Linked DNA regions of Homo sapiens: all the other regions are linked to region 2. The links come from fine-mapping of genetic effects on gene expression. A gene starts in region 2. Each other region holds a variant in brackets. All regions are shown on one strand. Distances are between the middles of the regions. Region 1 has its middle 20 kb from the start of TRIM60. Region 2 holds the start of TRIM61 (tripartite motif containing 61). Region 3 holds the start of FAM218A (family with sequence similarity 218 member A).

The links. PIP is the estimated chance that this variant, and not a neighbour inherited with it, causes the effect.
Region 1: its variant is fine-mapped to the expression of TRIM61 in whole blood (TOPMed, PIP above 0.99). The same link has a PIP of 0.9 or more in blood mononuclear cells.
Region 3: its variant is fine-mapped to the expression of TRIM61 in whole blood (TOPMed, PIP above 0.99). The same link has a PIP of 0.9 or more in blood mononuclear cells.

Annotation. Positions count from the first base shown.
Region 1 is chr4:165,009,693-165,013,933 of GRCh38, forward strand. It overlaps the pseudogene LOC391713 and the pseudogene RPL21P51. Among named protein-coding and RNA genes, the nearest start is that of TRIM60, 20 kb to the right of the region's middle. The variant T/C (reference allele first, on the strand shown) is at 2,218.
Region 2 is chr4:164,975,722-164,979,962 of GRCh38, forward strand. TRIM61 (tripartite motif containing 61) reads right to left here and starts at 1,936. Exons shown (of 3, transcript NM_001414904.1): 1 at 1,810-1,936; 2 at 967-1,104. RefSeq lists enhancers at 2,045-2,124, 2,155-2,214.
Region 3 is chr4:164,954,021-164,958,261 of GRCh38, forward strand. It overlaps FAM218A (family with sequence similarity 218 member A), which reads left to right and starts at 2,928. Exons shown (of 1, transcript NR_160935.1): 1 at 2,928-4,241. It also overlaps a transcript of TRIM61 not described here. RefSeq lists enhancers at 2,678-2,727, 3,028-3,187. The variant C/G (reference allele first, on the strand shown) is at 2,473.

The DNA of each region.
Region 1 (4,241 bases), 34 kb after region 2:
CTAGCCGTATATGTGCACAATTGATATATACAGCAAATGAAAAGCTCAGATGGACCAAGTAAACATTGGGCTATTATGAATCTAGTACTATCAGAAATATCTGTGGTTTAACCCTAAAAGTCCCAGATGCTATTGTAGGTTTTTCACAGGATTTCAATGATTGAAGTTGGCATTTTTATCCTTCTGTAGTTGATTCTGCTTGAGTCCAATACGTTAAGTTACTTTCTCAGGTACCTCATGGAGGATGTGACTAAGACTAGAATCTAACCCAAGGACACAGCATCTAGTTCACAATATGATGTCATTTCCACAAAACCATGCAACCCTGTGTGGTTTATTTGGATGTGGGTAGATGGCTGAGAGTGAAGGGAAGAATCAGTGGTTGCCTCAAATGTGGTATTGAGCAGAGCACAAAAAGAAGGAAGTTCTACTCTAAGGTGGGCCCTCTTCAGCAGGTTGGGCTCTGTGGGTACCAGGAAAATGGCAGCCTTTTGTAAATGAAGAAATATTTTCTCATCCCCAGGACCTCACAGGCACTTTAGAGTCGTGTTTGCTTTCTGAACAAGAGAATTGCTTCGCAGCTACTTGCCCAACTGCTCTATGACCTGCCACAGGTGAAGGCAGAGCTGCTCTCAGAAGCTGAGGCTGGTGACCCCAGAGGACGTCAACGACTGACTTCAACAGACAGGGAGACCTTCAGGACAGGAAGGTCAGGGAGATCTGAGGGCAGAGTAGCTTCTCTGTCCAGACCTTCATTCACAGCCTGATGGCGGAGGCAGCAGCCCTGGCAGGACTCCAGGAAGAGGCCAAGTGCTCCATCTGTCTGGATTACCTGAGCAATCCCGTTCCCATTGAATGTGAACACAACTTCTGTCATTCCTGCATCCAACAGTCTTGGCTGGATCTACAGGAATTGTTCTCTTGCCCTGTCTGTAGTCACCAATGCCCAGAGGGAAACTTCAGGAGCAACACCCAGCTGGGAAGGATGATTGACATTGCCAAGCTACTCCAGAGAGCCAGAGGCAATGACGTCAGGCAGGACAAGATGCCCCTGTGGGAGAAGCACAACCAGCCCCTGAGTGTTTTCTGCAAGGAGGACCTGGTGGTGTTGTGTCCCCTGTGCACTCAGACCCATGACCACCAAGGCCACCATGTGAGCCCCATAGAGGAGGCTGCCTCCCATCACAGGGAAAGGCTCCACAGTTACCTTGAGACCCTGAAGTTAGGAAGCTGTGAGCCACCCAGGACAGAAAGTTGTTGGAGCTCAGAGAGAAGACAGAAAGCCAAAGGCAGGAATTATCCTCTCAGTTGAAGCACCTAACGAAGTTTGTTGACCATGAAAAGCAGGCAGCTTTCTGTAGATTAGCTGAGGAAAAGACGGACATTCAGAAGAAACTCGGTGCAAACATAAGGGCATTTTCAGAACACATTTCCACCCTGAAAGGTCTGCTTACGCAGGTGGCCGAGATGAGTGTGATGGCAGATGTGAAACTGCTGATGGATGTAAGGACCGTCCTGCACAGGTGTAAGGCCTGCAGGCCCCAGCTGTCCACTCTATGCAGCTCCAGAAGGAAGGAAACAGGCTTCCCCTGCAGTACTCGGCTCTTCAGAAAATCATACAGAAGTTTAGAGAAGTTACTCTGGATCCTGAAAGTGCACATCCTCATCTGCGTGTCTCTGAGGATAAGAAATGTGTGACATTTGTGAAGGAAAGTCAGAGAGTTCACTGGAATCCAAAGAGATTGTTGTCCCATCCAGTGGTCCTGGGTTCTGAGGGATTTGAGTGTGGCCGGCATTACTGGGAGGTGCAAGTGGATGACAAGCCAATGTGGACCGTGGGGGTGTGTAAGGAATCCCTGCCCAGGAAGGGAAAGTGGCCCCTGTCAGGACAGAGCATGTGCTGGGCTATCCAGCTGCAGAATGGTGAGTGTGTGGCCTGAGGCGCTGTTCCTGTCATCCTTCCGCTAAAGGAGAAGCCCAGAGGAATTGGCATTTATCTGGACTACAAGTTGGGCGAGATCTCCTTTTACAATTTGAATGACAGGTCTCACATCCATTCCTTCACTGATACATTTTCAGAAGTACTGAAGCCTTATTTCTGTATGGGGCATGATTCAAAACCTCTTAGAATCTGCATAATGACAGATTATGATGGCTGAACTGTGACATTGCTTCATTTTCTTCCTGTAATTTATACAGTTGTCACTGAATTTAGCA[T/C]CCATAAGTTTTATAAAGTACTTTTATAAGTTTAGTCTTCTCATTTTGTTTTATCTTATTTTCAAAAATTATTTTGTTTCAATAGCAAGAGATATTGTAGAAATTAACAGATGTGAGGATAAACTATTAAGTGTTCTGGAAATCTAAAACTAGAGTGTATGAAATTGTGATCCCTTTAGTCTAATCAATTTTGCATACAATAAAATATTTTCTGTATCATACAAATTTCAGGTGGCAGAGAAGACATGACTGTGGGAGACAGTTCTCTAAAGGTCTCTCCCATTTCTGCATGTGTTGAGAGCAATGCACTCATTGCTCCAGACTATGTATTCAAAGAGGTTTTTGTGGGTAGATGTTATGAAAAGGCTAATATTGTATGATTCCTACAACGTAACATTCTTTTTTTTTTTTTTTACAGCCCAGAGGTCTTTTATTTATTTTTTGTTTTAACACCTATTATGCCATGAATTCATAGGGAATAGGTTCCAGCAGCTCAGACTCCTTCCCATTGGTTCTCACAAAGTGTGCTTCTCTGGGTGGAGCAGGCTGGCGCTTTAGTTGAACCCAGGTACCTTTCTCTTTGGCTTCTTTCTTTTTCTGATCATTTTCCTTCATGTGTTTCAGGAAGCTATCTCGGCTCACAGTGTTTAATGTGCTCAATACGCACATTAATTCTCTTGGCAAGAATCTTGCCCTTAACTTGTTTGTTTACAACAATGCCAACAGCATGCTGGGTAACATTGTAGACTCTTCCAGTTTTGCCATGCTAACACTTGTGGGGCATTCCTTTTGAACAGTACCCATTCCCTTGGTGTCTACAATATCATCTTTCTTATAGATTCGCATATACGTGGCCAAAGGAACAAGTCCATGTTTTCTAAAGGGCCTAGAGAACATATATCGGGCGCCTCTCCTCTTTCCCTTTGTGTTCATCATTTTGGTGAATTACTGGAAGATGGTGGCTCTGGCCGAAAGGCATAAAATTCTTAAAATGGAAAAACTATGAAGACAGTAAAAGAATTAGTGGTTGACGGGGTTGGAGGGTGCGAGAGATGAACAGGAAGAGCACAGAGATATGCTAAATGCAGTGAATTACTCTGTGTGGTGCTATGATAGTGAATACACACCATACATTTTTCATCTGCCACAAAATGTAAAAGTGAAATCCTGTGTAAACTATGGACCTTGTGTGATAATGATGATTCAATGTAGATTCATCAGTTGTAAGAAGTATGCCACTCTGGATGGGATGCTGTTAGTGGCAGAGGCTGTGCTTATGTAGGGGAAGGGCACATGTGGGCTATATCTGTACATTCTGCCCAATTTTGCTGTGCATCTAAAATTTATCTTAAAATAAAATTTATGGAAAATACAAGAAAAAGTAAAAAGGGTACTTTTTTTTCTTTGAGACGGAGTCTCGCTCTGTCGCCCAGGCTGGAGTGCAGTGGTGCAATCTCTGCTCACTGCAACCTCCGCCTCCTTGGTTCACGCCATTCTCCTGCCTCAGCCTCCGGAGTAGCTGGGACTACAGGCGCCCGCCACGACGCCCGGCTCATTTTTTGTATTTTTAGTAGAGACGGGGTTTCACCGTGTTAGCCAGGATGGTCTCGATCTCCTGACCTCGTGATCCACCCGCCTCGGCCTCCCAAAGTGCTGGGATTACAGGCGTGAGCCACCGCGCCCGGCTGTAAAAAGGGTACTTCTACTTGCCTCTGTGAGAAGCACAAAGGATGTTTTTCTGATATTCACTGCGAGAACCTGATAGAGTTTCTGAGAGGTAAATCTCATAGAAATATAGGGCTGGGTCATCAATAACAAGGTCCCCCTGGAGTAGAGATGAGCCTGGACTCAGGGAAGGGGCAGGAACCTTAGGTGGGGTTTGGGGGGTGGGAGGTGACCTCACCAGACCAGTGGGCCTGTGGAGTGATCCTGCAAGGGTGCCTCACAACAGTCCATGAGGATGAAAATGGTTTGGTTTGGGAGGCAGATTTGAGGCCAGCAGAGTGGATAGTGGATGATGCAGG
Region 2 (4,241 bases):
TCCAAGGTTTCTCCCCATGTGATAGTCTGAAATATGGCCTCGTGGGATGAGAAAGACCTGACTGTCCCCAGCCTGACACCCGTAAAGGGTCTGTGCTGAGGTGAATTAGTAAAAGAGGAAAGCCTCTTGCAGTTGAGATGGAGGAAGGCCACGGTCTGCTGCCTGCCCCTGGGAACTGAATGTCTTGGTATAAAACCTGATTGTACCTTTGTTCAATTCTGAAATAGGAGAAAAACCGCCCTATGGTGGGAGGCGAGACATGTTTGCAGTAATGCTGACTTGTTATTCTTTACTCCGCTGAGATGTTTGGGTGGAGAGAAACATAAATCTGGCTTACGTGCACGTCCAGTCATAGTACTTTCCCTTGAACTTAATTATGACATAGATTCTATTGCTCACATGTTTGTTGCTGACCTTCTCCTTATTATAACCCTGCTCTCCTACTACATTCCTTTTTGCTGAAATAATGAAAATAATAATCAATAAAAACTGAGGGAACTCAGAGGCCGGTGCCGGTGCAGGTCCTTGGTATGCTGAGCGCCGGTCCCCTGGGCCCACTGTTGTTTCTCTATACTTTGTCTCTGTCTTATTTCTTTTCTCAGTCTCTCGTCCCACCCGACTAGAAATACCCACAGGTGTGGAGGGGCAGGCCACCCCTTCATAAAGGACACAAGAGGACTCACTCCAGGTATCATTGTGCCCTCCTTTCCCCAAGCATACACCCAAAGCAGTCTTCTCTACTATTTAAAATCAGGACATTAAGTGAACAGAACAGCTCTGTAGGCACAGTCACCACCCTAGTTTAAACCACTTATGTCTCTCTCCTAGATACACAATGGTGCCTCCAATTTCTGAAGTCTGTAGCTAAACTGACCTTTTCAAATACAAACAGAATCCTTTCATATTTCAACTGAAAACATTCCACTGGTCCTTTATTACTTTATGGAAGCAATTCTCAAATCTTACCTTGCATTATAATCACCTGGAGGTCTTGGTAAAAGATTGCCTGGGCCACATCCCCAGTTTCTGACTCAGTAGGGCTGGTTTTTTCCTAAGTTCCCAGATGATGCTGCTGGCCTGCGGACTGTACTTTGTGAACCTATGCTTTAAGGAAAACAAAGCAAAAAGATCCATTAAGATCTAGTCCAAGTTTTTTGCCTAGCTCCCATCATGTCACATATCACAGTTATGTGATTTTACAGCTACTCTGCAATTCTTTACCTAACTGTAAAAACCCCTCACCAGGCAGCAAGCTTCTTGGTGGCAATACGTCTCTAGCTTGTTTGAGGAATAAATAAAACCTGTGGTAGATTCCAAGCTCTCAGTTTCAACCATCATCATACTGGCTGATTCTTAACATGCCTGCACCTAAAGCGCCTCATCTACAAAGTTGAAATGATAATTCGTACCTGTAAGACCCTTGTGAGGATTACAGGATGCTTACATAGGTCGAGGGTGCAGACGACGTAGGCTGGTGGGTTCTCAACTGGCAGCTACCACTTCGCTCCCTTAACTCCCCAACCCCCACTCCCAAACACGTACATTAACTCTTTGAAGATAACATAGCCACTTCATAAACCCTAATTCAGATCATAACATTTAAAGCTTAATTGATACAGGCTCAACACCCCCATTCTAACTCTACAATCCTGAATTTTTCACAAGAGCTACGCCAGACACTAAGGAGATCCAGTCGTGGGCAGGCAGCGACCCGGAGGTTTAGGCACAGAGAATGTTCAAGAAGCCCCTGTCCAGTTAAGCCTCCTGGCGAGGCCCTTCTGGGCCTTTCCTGCGGCCTTCCCAGCTCACCTGGAGCAGACGGATCAGCAAATCCGGCCAAAGAATACTCAGGACCCACCGAGCCCCCGCGAGGAAGGACTCATACCCCAACCCCACCAAGTGGGCTGCTTCCTGCCTGGGGCTCAGCCTGCGCGGTGGTTGGCAGTTGCCCCGGAAGTGGGCGGGAAGGACCTGCGCATGCTCTGTGACCCTGGGTGCAGGGATTGTGTGAAGATTGAGAGCTGGGGGCGCCCTCTTCCGTGATCAGGGCCCCGTTGGCCCCAACTGGCATTTAATTCCCCTGGCTGTCTTTTCGGATTCTTATCACTTTTTATGTATATGAGTAAACTTGAGGGTCCAAGTAAGTCTGCAAGTTGGTTTTAAAAGCTTCACCAGCACAGCGTCCCCTCCCAGATGGTGAGGGAGTGGAGAGCTTTGCAGGGTCAACTGCTTCCCGTAGCCTGGGGTCGCAGGGTGGAGTCGTTGAGCACTCCCTATGCTTGAAAGAGGAATAGAAGCCCCTTTGGATTAGTTTGCATCTCAGTGGGTGAGTGGGTGGATCTCTCCCACCCTGTGGGATTGTGCCCTACCCTATGAACTCAGGTTTACCTGAGGAAGTGACATTTCAGGCGGAATTTGAGGGATGAAGAGGCATTCGTTGGATCAATTCCACGGTCAAAGTCTTCAAGGCTGGAAGAAGAGCCAATGTGGAGCCTCTCAACTTTAAAGAATTTAGTACAGGCCGGGCATAGTGGCTCACACCTGTAATCCAAGCACTTTCAGAGGCAGAGGTGGGAGGATCGCTTGAGGCCAGGAGTTCAGGACAAGCCTAGGTAACATTGCCAGACCCTGCGTCTACAAAATATTTTAGAAATGATTTTTTTTTCTTTTAATAAGAGACGGAATCTCTCTTTCGCCCAGGCTGGAGTGCAGTGGCGCGATCTTGGCTCTCTGCAACCTCTGCCTCCCAGTTTCAAGCAATTCTCCTGCCTCTGTCTCCCGAGTAGCTGGGTCTATAGGCGCACGCCGCCACGCCTGGCTAATTTTTTGTTGTTGTATTTTTAGTAGAGACGGGGTTTCATCGTGTTGCCCAGGCTGGATTCGAACTCCTGAGATCAGGCAATCCGCCCGCCTCGGCCTCCCAAAAGTGCCAGGATTACAGGCGTGAGCCACCTCACCCAGCCAGAAATGATAATTTTATTTTTATTTTTATTTTTTTTTTGAGACGGAGTCTCGCTCTGTGGCCCAGGCTGGAGTGCAGTTGCGTGATCTCGGCTCACTGCAAGCTCCGCCTCCCGGGTTCACGCCATTCTCCTGCCTCAGCCTCCAGAGTAGCTGGGACTACAGGTGCCTGCCACCACGCCCAGCTAATTTTTTGTATTTTTAGTGGAGACGGGGTTTCACCGTGTTAGCCAGGATGGTGTCGATTTCCTGACCTCGTGATCCGCCCGCCTCGGCCTCCCAAAGTGCTAGGAGTACAGGCGTGAGCCACCGCGCCCTGCCTAGAGATGATAATTTTTAAAAACTTGGTACAAAAGGAACTGAAAGAGGTCATTTGGTTGGCACTACAACGTGGGAAATTGCAAGAAGTATAAAATATGGAAAATGGCTTTGTGAGGCTGATGAGATAGGCGAGAATGAATGCTGCAAGGCCCTTTAGGCAAAATTGAGGATATTGGTTTTTATCAAATGCAAAGAAAAGCCAGTGAAGCATTTTAAACATGAAGTACTAAGATTTGAATTGTGGAATAAAGACCCGTCGATGCCTTTAATATATCCTAGAAAGGGTGTATGGTGGACAGTTGAATAGAGGTGTGACCTAGACAAATCAACCGATAAAGCAAAGTCCTTGTTCGTAAACCTTTTGAAATTCCAGAGTCTCCTGAAAAAGAAAGGAAAAGAAATACCAGTGGCAGCAGCTTCCCCCATATTACTTTGCAGTGAGGTGAGTGCATGGTATTTATTTGTTATTTTCGCCCAGGCTGGAGTACAATGGCGCCATTTTGGCTCACTGCAAGCTCCGCCTCGCGGGTTCAGCCTCCCTGGTTCAAACAGTTCTCCTGCCTCAGCCTACAGAGTAGCTGGGATTACAGGCGCGTGCCACCCACGCCCGGCTAAGTTTTTGTGCTTTCAGTACAGACGGGGGTTTCACTGTGTTGGCCCGGCTGATCTCAAACTCCTGGGCTTAAGCGATCCACCCGCCTCGGGCTCCCAAAATGCTGGGATTACTTAAAGGTGTGAGCCACTGCACCCACCCTGTATATTATGCTATTTAAACAAACTATGCAGCCAGCAGGGTGGTTTCTTTCCCTGTCACAGTACGTGGCATTAAAAATCACGCTTGTAATCCCAGCACTTTGGGAGGCCGAGGTGGGCGGATAACAAGGTCAGGAGTTCGAGACCAGCCTGACCAACATGGTGAAACCCCATCTCTACTAAAAATACAAAAATTAGCCGGCGTG
Region 3 (4,241 bases), 22 kb before region 2:
CCCCTGTCCCCTTCACCAACCCAGGACCCTGCAGGAGCAATCAGAGAACAAGAGAGAACTGCCCTCTGGGACCTGTCACTTCCCCCATGCTGACTGCATAAGGAAAAAAAAACTCCCTACAGGGTTTAAGACTGAATTCGTTCTGAGGTCACCATTTTGGTGAACAAGAAGTAGGGACTGTGTTGCGTCTTCTGACCTGGATCGACGAAGAAACAGCTCTGCAAGGATGGAAAAAGCTGACAATCCCCAGTGAACTGCTGACAAGTGAATACAGGTAGGCTCCGCACCCTACACTAACCCTCTACTGGGAGCAGAATATCTGAGTGAGGATTGCACCAGGAGGCACAGGTGAGCTACACTCAGTAAAGGGCGTGCAGCCTTTGGCTGGACCTAAGCTGGGGAAAGTAGCCACATAGGAAGGAACCTTGGGGAGTTTGTGCATTTTATTTTTTAACCATCAGTTTTGTATTATTAGAAAGATAAACATTCCAATATACATCTAAAATTATATATATTGATTATAATTCAATATGTTCTTGTATTAATTAGCATATTTATATGTACATATTATACAGAAATACATATAATTACATACCTTACAAATGTAATTAAAATTTTATTATGGTATAGGAACATATACATACCCTACACATGGTTGGCAGCATGGCTATAATCCCAGCACTTTGGGAGGTCAAGGCAGGAAGATCGCTTGAGGTCAGGAGTTCCAGACCAGCCTGGGCAACCATCTCTACAAAAAATAAAATATAAATATGCTGTTTTATATTTACTTAAAATTTTATTGGCCCAGCACAGTGGCTCATGCCTGTAATCCCAGCACTTTGGGAGGCCAAGGCAGGCAGATCACAAGGTCAAGAGATCGAGACCATCTGGCCAACATGATGAAACCCTGTCTCTACTAGAAATACAGAAGTTAGCTGGGCATGGTGGAGGGCACCTGTAGTCCCAGCTACTCAGGAGCCAGAGGCAGAAGAATCGCTTGATCCCGGGAGGCGGAGGTTGAAGTGAGCCGAGATCGTGCAACTGCACTCCAGCCTGGTGACAGAAGGAGACTCCATCTCAAAAAAAAAAAAAAAAAAAATTATTATGGTATTATAGTAGTATACACATGTCCTACACATAACCTATTTGGTTCACTCTTTACTCTGACATCGTATATGAGACAGTTCTTTTGTATGTTGTATGACAATCACAGATTTGGACTTCTCATAAGGGGCCTCATGCTGGTTTGCCCTAATTACATCTAATTATGTCTGAACTGTTCTGCATAATCAGCATATCTACCATTAAACAGTCAACAGAAGAATCAGAAACACAAACCATTCTTGGAATATATTGAGTTCTGTGCCACACCAAATCCTATGTTTTAAAAAATTTTTTCCAGGCTGAGCTCAATGGCTCAAGACTGCAACCCGAGTAGTGTGGGAGGCCCAGGCAGGAAGATTGCTTGAGGTCAAGAGTTTGAGGCTACAGTGAGCTACGAACTTGCCACTGCAGTCCAGCCTGGGTGACTAAGAGAGATTCAGTCTCAAAAAAAAAAAAAAAAAAAAAACAAGTTTTCCAGAAGATATGTCTTTATTGGTGTTTATATTTACAGAAAACTTAAAGGGAAATTGAGGTTGATTTTCCTTGTCTTCATGTGACCACAAAAGGATGAAGAGAGGATATCAGGGACCAGCCCCAGATGACTCAGGTAATCTGAGACCAGGCCTGGGATCCACACACAAGACACACACACCCAGATGGAAGCACAATGCCTAGTCTCGCTCTTTCCTCAATCCCGATTTAAACTAATTTGGCAGTTTTATGAGATTAAAGAGGGTGTAGACAGGAAATTGGTAGAGGATGGAAAATCGATTAAGATTAGGGACAACTGTGAGGAGGAAGACAAAGGAGACAGAATCTGAGAGCCCTGAGGCGGACTGAAAACGGGGAGGCGGCTCAAAGAAAAGAGTAAGAGAAATGAGCTTTTCTGGAACGAGGCATTGATAACGCTGAAACATGATTAGCCTTTTGAAATAAATCTTTCGTTTATTTATTTTTTTGAGACAAGCTCTCGTTCTGTCGTCCAGACTGAGGTGCAGTGGCGCCATCCTGGCTCACTGCAACCTCAACTCCCCAGGTTCAAGCGATTCTCCCACCTCAGCCTCCGGAGTAGCTGGGACCACAGGGGCGGGCCAACATGTCCGGCTAATTTTTGTATTTTTTGTACAGACAGGGTTTCACCATGTTGGCCTGGCTGGTCTCAAACTCCAGAGCTCATGTGATCCGCCCACCTCAGCCTACCAAAGTGCTGGGATTACAGGCATGAGCTTCCATGCCGGGTATAAAAGGAAGCTTTTAAATTGTGGAGTATTTCATACATCCATAATAGTAGAGAGAACATTATGAAGAACGTACACATAAAAAGAAACCAATTTCTATCATTTGAATTAACAATCTTTATAACCCCAG[C/G]AACTTCTCCTGCCAATGGAGTAAATTCCCAGACATCTTATAATTTCATCTGTATATTTCATCTTATAATTTCATTATTTATTCCCTAAAAGACAATATCTCAATTATCATAGTGTTACTGTAACTTTTAATAAGCTGTTCAGTGGGAATTATAACCATATTTTTCTCCAACCAGTTATAAATAAGATTCAATAAATTAAAACAGCAACTGGAATTCTCTTCTGTTAAGGCGGGGCAGGGAGAGCCCTCAGTCTGGCACAGGTAGGGTTGGGTGGCAGAAGAGCAAAGCAAACAGCTGAGGTTCCTTCAGAATGCAACTTTCTCACAGAACACAAGGCTCTCAAGGGGCTTCAGCACCCCAAGCACTGCAGCGTTTCTCCCAGGAGGCTGGGCGAGTCCGTAGCGGAAGTCGGAGCGGCAGAGCAGTGATTGGGTGCGGCCGGCACCGTCTCTGGGCTTCGACTTCCGGGTGAGACCGTGAAGGTGTGGCGCGACGTTGGAGACCGGGGCAGCGCCATGTACCACAGTGGATGGAAGGATGCGCGGTGCGGCGGGGCAGCTGTCCTCTTCTCCCCGGACCCAGCGCCTGGAGAGCCAGCCCTGCAGGGTGGGCTGGGCGAGCCAAACTGCGTTCCTGGTGCAGGGCTTCGGGTCTCCCTAACAGACCTTATACGCTGACCGGCGGCCGCCATGGCAGTGTCTCTTTGCTCAGACATCCAGGGACGACCACATTCGTCCAACAGCGGTCGCTCCACCAATCCTGGGAGAAGCGAATCGTTTTCTCCGCGTGCCCTGTCAGCCGCTCATGGTGCCCAGAGAGGAATTTTAGTGGCAGCATTCCGGCTGTCACGCCACCGAAATTGCCAGGCCACTCCAAGTCAGAAGGACCACCAGGAAAAGTCAGGAAGAGAACCACCATCAGGTCCCAGCCTCTTTTTGTGACAAGGACTAGAGGGTTTGGGTCTGCAGTGGGCTGGCTCCCGCTGGGCTCACCTGTCCTATAGAGCAGGCTGCCTCAAGGAAGAAGCTCACAGGGGACATCTGACATCTGAAACAGCAAGTGTAAAATGCTTTAAATAAGCCAAAACTAAACCAATCGTTATGTTAACTAAAAATACATGAATGCTACCGAAGATAGTCGAATATTAGAGGAAGAGATTAAACTCTGATTTTGAGCACTTTGTGCTTTATTCGGAAAATGAATAAGATGCAGTTCTGAAAACCTGAAAATATAAAGAATAGGATATGATACGCACACTAGATGAAAACAAAACTTTCAGACCATATTTTCTTATTTAAAGCTCTAATAAGTGAGATAGCAGAGTAAACTATTCACTCAAATAATTAGTAACTGATATAAGGGTATGTATCAATAACAGGTATTAAGACAAAAACTTTATGAGCTTTTCCATTTTAACAAGGGATGATGATTCTAGACTTCTGCCACAACATTATGGTCGACAAAACATTCTTAATTCATTTTACATAGATCTGACTCTAGATTCTGAAACAGCAAGTCATAATCTTGTATCTCTAAAGATAGAATACAGTGCGATTTGGAAAGACACCACAAAAACTCATGATCCAAAAAAGATTAAGGCTGTTATTACCAGGAGGAAGAGAAAGAGGACAAAATCAAACTGGATAGATATAATAGAGTTGTTTGTTAGAATTGTCTTCCCAGGAGATGGAAAAAGACGCCATCACAATAGGATTCATGCTTTAGTTTTCAGCTATAGAAATGTAATAACTTTGCCAAAGTAATTACA